2 linked regions of the Homo sapiens genome follow. The protein of the gene in region 2 interacts with the protein of the main gene of each other region in a biochemical or structural test. Each region holds a gene or a part of one and is shown on either strand. Other genes may lie near its edges.

Region 1 (3,746 bases), 4.2 Mb from region 2:
CTGGGTTCATGCCATTCTCCTGCCTCAGCCTCCCGAGTAGCTGGGACTACAGGTGCCCACCACCATGCCTGGCTAATTATTTGTATTTTTAGTAGAGAGAGGGTGTCACTGTGTTAGCCAGGATGGTCTTGATCTCCTGACCTCGTGATCCGCCCGCCTCAGCCTCCCAAAGTGCTGGGATTACAGGCGTGAGCCACCGCGCCTGGCCTTTTATTTTTATTTTTAGTAGCAACGGGTTTCACCATATTGGCCAGGCTGGTCTCAAACTCCTGCCCTCAAGCGATTCGCCCGCCTTGGCTCCCAAAGTGCTGGGATTACAGGCATAAGCCACTGCGCCCGGCCCCATCCAGAAAGCATTCTGCTGTGCACGATCTAATCATATCCATTGCACAATTCAGAAGGAAGGTTGGGTTGACTCTTCCCATTTTACAAGCCAGACTATAAGAGGCTCCAACAGGTGAAAACCTTTATCTGAAGACACGGAATACTAATCACTGCCCCTTAGAGAAGCAGCATAGCACAGCGTCATGAACTCAGGCTCAGGGACTTGCCCAGGTAAATCTCAGCTTTGCAACTTCCCACCTGTGGACCTGGAGCCAGTGATTCTGCCTCTTTGGGTGTCAATGTCTTCATCCGTAAATGGAGATAATAATAGTAACCACCTTAGGGGGCTGGTTGAGGTTTAAATTAATTAAAATGCGTAAGGCCATTAGAACAGAGTCCAGCGCATACTAAATGCTCTTTGTGTGTGCCAGGCACTGTTCTAGTCCCTCCACCAACACTCTTAAGATCAGCACTAATTGTCGGGGCGCGGTGCCTCACGCCTGTAATCCCAGCACTTTGGGAGGCAGAGGTGGGCGGATCACGAGGTCAGGAGATCGAGACCATCCTGGCTAACCCGGTGAAACCTCGTCTCTACAAAAAAAATACAAAAAATTAGCCAGGCATGGTGGCAGGTGCCTGTAGTCCCAGCTACTCAGGAGGCTGAGGCAGGAGAATGGCATGAACCCAGGAGGCGGAGCTTGCAGTGAGCCAAGATCATGCCACTGCACTCCAGCCTGGGCCAAAGTGTGAGACTCCGTCTCCAAAAAAAAATAAATAAATAAAAATAAAAAAAGATCAGCACTAATTAATTAGCCTATTATATGGACCAGGAACTGAGGCATGGAGAGGTGAATGAGCCTCCCATAATGATAATAACCACACTCACTAAAGTCTCACTGCAGCTAAGCAAGTTTACATGTGTTAAAAATGTTTCCGCCAAATGTGGTGGCTCATGCCTGTAATCCCAGCACTTTGGGAGGCTGAGGCAGAAGGATCGCTTGAGCCCAGGAATTCGAGACCAGCCTGGGCAACATAGTGAGACCTCATCTCTACTAAAAATGAAAAAATTAACCAGGCATGGTGGCACACACCTATAGTCCTAGCTACTTGGGAGGCTGAAGTGAGAGGATCGCTTGAGCCCAGGAGTTCAAGACCAGCCTGGGCAATCAACATGGTGAGACCTCATCTCTACTAATAATGAAAAAATTAATCAGGCATGGTGGCGCACACCTGTAGTCCTAGCTACTTGGGAGGCTGAAGTGAGAGGATCACTTGTGCCCAGGAGTTTGAGGCTGCACTGTGCCAGGGTCGTGCCACTGCACCCCTGGCATGGGCAACAAAGTGAGACCCTGTCTAAAAAAAAAAAAAGTTTCCGCCAGATGATCACTCCATGAGGTGGCTTACTATCTCTATTTTACAGATGAAACTGAGGCTCAATAAGTCCCCTGACCAAAGTTACAGCATGATAATAGCTAACAGGCTGAGCACAGTGGCTTCACACCTGTAATCCCAGCACTTTGGGAGGCCAAGATGGGGAGGATCGCTTGAGGCCAGGAGTTTGAAACTAACCTGGGCAACATAGGGATACTCCATTTCTATTTTTAACAAAAGTTTGTTGTTGTTGTTGTTGTTTTAATTAGCCAGGCTTTGGTGGCGTTCACCTGTAGTCCCAGCTACTCGGGAGACTGAGGAGGGAAGATTGCTTGAACCCAGGAGTTCAAGGTTACACTGAGCTATGATTGCACCACTGCACTCCAGCCTGGGCCACAGAGTGAGACCCTGTCTCTAAAATAGAAAAAAAATTTCAATAACGAATACTTGCTGATCCTTTACTTAATACCAAGCCCTGTTCTGAGGGCTTTAATTTCTCTATAACAGCCCTGTCCAACAGAGCTTTCTGTAATGGTGGAAATATTCTGTCTGTGCTGTCCAGTAAAGTAGCTACAAGCTACATGTGACAATTGAGCACTTGAAATATGGCTAGTGTGACTGGGGAAATGCATTTTTAATTTAGTTTAAATGTATTGATTTGTATTTTTATTTATTTATATTTTTTCTTGAGACAGAGTCTTGCTCTGTTGCTCAGGCTGGAGTGCAGTGGTGCTATCTGGGCTCACTGCAACCCTCCTGGGTTCAAGCAATTCTCCTGCCTCAGCCTCCCGAGTAGCTGGGATTACAGGCGTGCACCATCATGCCTGGTTAATTTTTGTATTTTTAGTAGAGATGGGGGTTTCACCATGTTGGCCAGGCTGGTCTTGAACTCCTGACCTCAGGTGATCCTCCCACCTCGGCCTCCCAGAGTGCTAGGATTATAGGTGTGAGCCACCGCGCCCGGACTAAATTTATTTATTTTTAAATTTAAAAATCATCTGAGTCTTCTTTCTAAGGTATGTATTTATTTATTTTTGAGACAGGGTCTTGCTTGTTGCCCAGGCTGGAGTGCAGTGGCACCATCATAGCTCACTGCACCCTTGAACTCCTGGGCTCAAGCGATCCTCCCACCTCAGCCTCCCAAGTAACTGGGACAACAGGCTTGAGCTACTGCACCTGGTTACCTTTTTTCTTTCTTTTATAGAGAATAGGGTCTTGCTGTCTTTGTTTTTTGGAACAGATTAAGATTAGAGGGTCTCGCCATTTTCACCCAGGCTGGTCTGAAACTCCTGGCCTCAAGTGATCCTCCAGCCTTGGCATCCCAAAGTGTTGGGATTATAGGCATGAGCCACCACACCCGGCCTTAGTTTAAATTTAAATTGTTGGCCAGGCATGGTGGCTCATGCCTGTGATCCCAGCACTTTGGGAGGCCGAGGCGGGTGGATCACCTGAGGTCAGGAATTCGAGACCAGCCTGGCCAACATGGCGAAGCCCCGTCTCTACTAAAAATACAAAAATTAGCCAGGCGTGGTGGCATGCACCTGTAGTCCCAGCTACTTGGGAGGCTGAGATGGGAGAATTGCTTGAACCCAGGAAGTGGAATTTGCAGTGAGCCGAGATCGTGCCACTGCACTCGAGCCTGGCAACAGAGTGAGACGCTGTCTCGAAAAAAAAAAAAATAAATAAAATAAATAAATAAATAAATTTACATTGTCCTATGTGGCTAGTCACTATTCACTATATGAGACAGGGCAACTCTTTAACAATCCTATAAGGTGAGTATAATTTCTGTTCCCATTTCACAGCAAAGGAAGTTGAGGCACACAGAGGTTAAGTCATGTAGCCAGCAAATGGTGATGTGTGACCTGGGGTTTGGGCCCAGGGCGGCCTCATGCAACCCACCTTGCTGCCCGTGTGTGGGCACTCCACGTTGGCCTCCCAGCATTCCTTCCTTAGCCATCGCCTCCCTTCTCTCCCCAGACGGGCACACTGCGGTTCTGTGGGACCACGGAGTTTGCCAGCGGCCAGTGGGTGGGCGTGGAGCTGGACGA
Region 2 (3,675 bases):
TATCACATTAAAGGGACACTGTGAAGGTGATTCATCAGCAGTGTTTGCCTCGATTGGCTGGATGATGTAGTGTTTGCCAGGGACCTTCACTGAAAAGTTACTTTTCCCCCTCTCCACACTGCACTCTTTGGAGGAGTCACTGCAGCCCACGCCTAAGAAGTGGGGGTTCCATAGCCCTCCTTGAAGGCTGTCTACAGAAATTACTTATGATTTTGTGTAGATTTGCATATTCTCCCCATTTTGCCACTTAGCAATAGACTTATTTCACATTTTAGGTGAAAACCCAATATTATGCTATTTATTTTGTTGTTCAAATTCTTTTCAGCTTTGGCCACTGGAAGCTTTCTGTTGGCTCCTGTGTCCCTGTGACTTAAGCATATCAGTGCGTGCTTTCAGGCACTGCAAGATGCCCCAGGCTCATCTTGTACATTTCCTGCCCCAGGCCTGGAATAATCTTAGTACAGCACTATTTTTGAAAGTTTTCTGCAAGTCTGCAATTATTTCAAAATTTAAAGTATCTGAATGGCTACACTTTTTTGGAAAGGTACTGGACATTAAAATCCTGGGATGTAGACAAACAAAAGCACCAGCACAGTACAGATGGATAGCTAGTTTATTACAGGACTGCTGGTAGCACCAAACGAAACCAAGTCAATTCCTGTTAACGGGGCAGCTGAAGCGGTTGAGGGGTCTACCCCATGGAACCCCAGGAAGCAGCTGGAAAGCCTGAGTTCCCCCCATGCAGCAGCTAAAAGGGAATCGCACTGCCGCCCCCGACTCCACACAACCATCAGTGCACGAGGGCAGCCCCCAGAGGCTTCACATTAACTGGAAAAGATTACACAAAAAGAGCAGGAAACTACCAATTTATGATGCCGTGTCCATTTGCAGAGAGGTAATCAGCACCAAAATGAGTACTCAAGGCCCTGCGACCTCGGGTGAATTTCCTTTCTTATACTCCTGCTTTGCTGTCTTTTTTAATAGCATGTATCATGTTTTTTTTTTTTTTATTTTTAGAGACACAGTCTCATTGTCCCAGGCTGCAGTGCAGTGCCGCAATCATAGCTCACTGCAGCCTCAAACTCCTGGGCTCAAGTGATCTTCCCACCTCACCTCAGCCTTCCAAGTTAGCTGGGATTGCAGGCATGCACCACCATGCCCAGCTAATTTTTGTATTTTTTGTAGAGATGAAGGTCTCCCTATGATGCCCAGGCTGGTCTCGAACCCCTGGCCTCAAGAGACCCGCCCGCCTCGGCCTCCCAAATTGCTGGGATTACAGGCATGAGCCACTGTGCCCAGTCACTGTTCTTTATATACAAAAAAGAATGTGTGAAATTTTTAAAATGTACATTGCAAAAGACGATTATTCTACTCAAAATTTATTTGGTAAGATTTTATTAAGACTCTAAGTTCAAACACCCTTCTTGGGAAAAGCTCTACAGGATAACCACACATGCTCAACTACGGGGCCAGCTGCTGCAGCTGTGGGACCCCATCCTGTGGAAGAGGAGAGAGGCACTAAAAAGATGAGGTAGCCAGGCCTGTGCCCACACTACGAGACCTGCATCACCATGGTGTGAGGAGCAGCAACGTGGGTCAACTCGGGGCTGGGACGAGATGGAAGAGTAAAAGGCCTTTCTTCATAGGCCTGCCTATTTTATGACCACCAGGGTAGACTTTTGTAATTAAATTAAGGTCCACATGACTTTAGAAAGACAAACTAAAAAACCCCAACCAAACGAGTCCTAGCTGTAGCTAACTCTGATTTCTGTAAATTGGATCTGACTTTTTCTGCTTACATTCACTTAAAATCTCAAAGACTCAATGGGTGTGAAGTGCTAACACCTTGCGGCAAAATCTCAAATTCATCTGTGCCAGGCCCTCTGCACAGCAGGGCTCAGCAGGGCAGGCCAGGGCTCTGGTCCCTGGTCCCTTGCTGGGGGAGGTGTTCCATCCGGCCAGCGCCCGGCCATGCAGCCACGTGACTCAAGCACGGGAAGTGCAGGGGCCCAGACACATCCAGGCTAAAGGGCAGTGACTAGGGGAGGGCTGACCCCAAGCTGAACAGGGTTCTAACCAAACGCTCAGGAGCTCCCAGGTGACAGCAACCACGCCACCATGAACACACCACTGGGTCTGTACTGGAATTTGGGGGCCTCAAGGCTTCCAGGTGGCAGCATAAACAGGGAGGTGGGGCAGGATAGGAATGCCCCCCTCTGAGGCTCGGCAGCCGGGTGGAATGAACCACTCCCTCTCATTCAGTGACAGCACAGGCACCCTCCTCATTCTGGGCTACCCAGATCTTCCAGCCCTGTCCCTCCACCCCACCTCTCTTAGCCTAAGCAGCACTGAGGGCCTGGAGTGGTCTCTGTCCACCCCACCCCCACATGCGGGGAGCCTTCCCATACCCCTCAGCCCCACAGCACCAGCTCCACCCACCCTCTCCAGCCTGAGCTCCTGCACACACCCCAGCTGCCCTCACCCTGAGCTCAGTGCCCTCCTTGCTGAAGGGAACGGCTAGTACAGGAGGAGCTGGGGCCCAGGGGTCTGACTCCATCACCAAGGCAAAGCCCAGAGTGGTTGGGCTGGCGTGAGTGCAGGCTGGGCCCTGGTCTGAAATGAGTGTCTTTATTGCTTGTACCGTACAAATATGAAGACGAGGAGAAAGGCCAGTAGGGACGGAGAACTGTCAGATAACAACATCGCACACAGAGGAAAAAGACCCTCACCCACCCGAACCAACCCCACCCCTCCCCACCCTGCCATGAACTGTGTAGTACAGGAGATGGGATAGGGAGAGCAAACCCACAAAAGCTAAACTCCAAACACCCAGAGGTGTTGCTACAGGGAGGGGAGGCGTGGGCAGGGCAGCTCATGGATCACAGTGGGGCTCCTCCCACTAGGTCAGCACCCCTCCCCCACAGGATGAAATGCTCGGGCCAGGGATGGGGCCCAAGCCCACACACCATGCACACTGGAGGACACGCTGCCCTCACACAAACACACATGCACACACACCCACGTGTGCCTGCGTCCCGCCGACACACGCAGTCCGAGGCACGCACAGGAGTCCCACAGCACTGACATGGACGTGCACTCATGTTCAACCTTAAGGCTGCAGAACGTGGGGCCCTGGGGAGAGGGAGGGGTGAGGGGGGCCTAGGAGCCTCCCTTTTCAGAGGCCCCCCACCCCAATAGGTACCAGAGATGCCCACCCCCACCCCTCCCTGACCAAGTCCATGGGGCCCAATACTGTCCGGTGTAAGATTGTAACAGCCAAGGCTGGTGGCCCTCCACCCCCGCAGAGGAGAGGGTGAGCCCAGCCCATAGCCCCCAGTGGGGCCAGGCCAGGCCCAGGGTCCAGCGGGAGGTAAGGCCAGCTGGAAGGAAGCCCTAGTAAGGCACGGGGCTGGGAGGCAGGCAGGTTTGGCCCCAAATGTTCCTCCTGCCTCATCCATAGGGTGAGGACAGTTTGGTGGGGAGGAGGCCGGACCAGGAGGCGGCACCCAGCCCGGCCACTCCTGGTTCCCCATGGTACAGATCCTAGGATCTGACTCCATTCACCAGGGAGCAGCCCTAACCCCCAGCCCTGCAGCTCCCAAGGGCCCCTGCCTGCCCCTGGACATTATTGCTTTTCTGCCCCCATAGGGGGACAGCGGGTGGGGGATTGGACCG

What was found. Proteins that work in one complex are often made in the same cells at the same time.
Region 1: the proteins of AKT2 (region 2) and CLIP3 form a complex in vitro, tested with the Homo sapiens proteins (one study listed by BioGRID).

Annotation. Positions count from the first base shown.
Region 1 is NC_000019.10:36,019,236-36,022,981, reverse strand, and holds part of CLIP3 (CAP-Gly domain-containing linker protein 3), read left to right. Parts: intron 1-3,597; exon of another isoform or gene 3,598-3,675; coding exon 3,676-3,746. UniProt on the Homo sapiens protein: Functions as a cytoplasmic linker protein. Involved in TGN-endosome dynamics. May modulate the cellular compartmentalization of AKT kinase family and promote its cell membrane localization, thereby playing a role in glucose transport in adipocytes.
Region 2 is NC_000019.10:40,229,722-40,233,396, forward strand, and holds the end of AKT2 (RAC-beta serine/threonine-protein kinase), read right to left. Parts: 3' UTR 596-3,675; downstream 1-595. UniProt on the Homo sapiens protein: Serine/threonine kinase closely related to AKT1 and AKT3. All 3 enzymes, AKT1, AKT2 and AKT3, are collectively known as AKT kinase.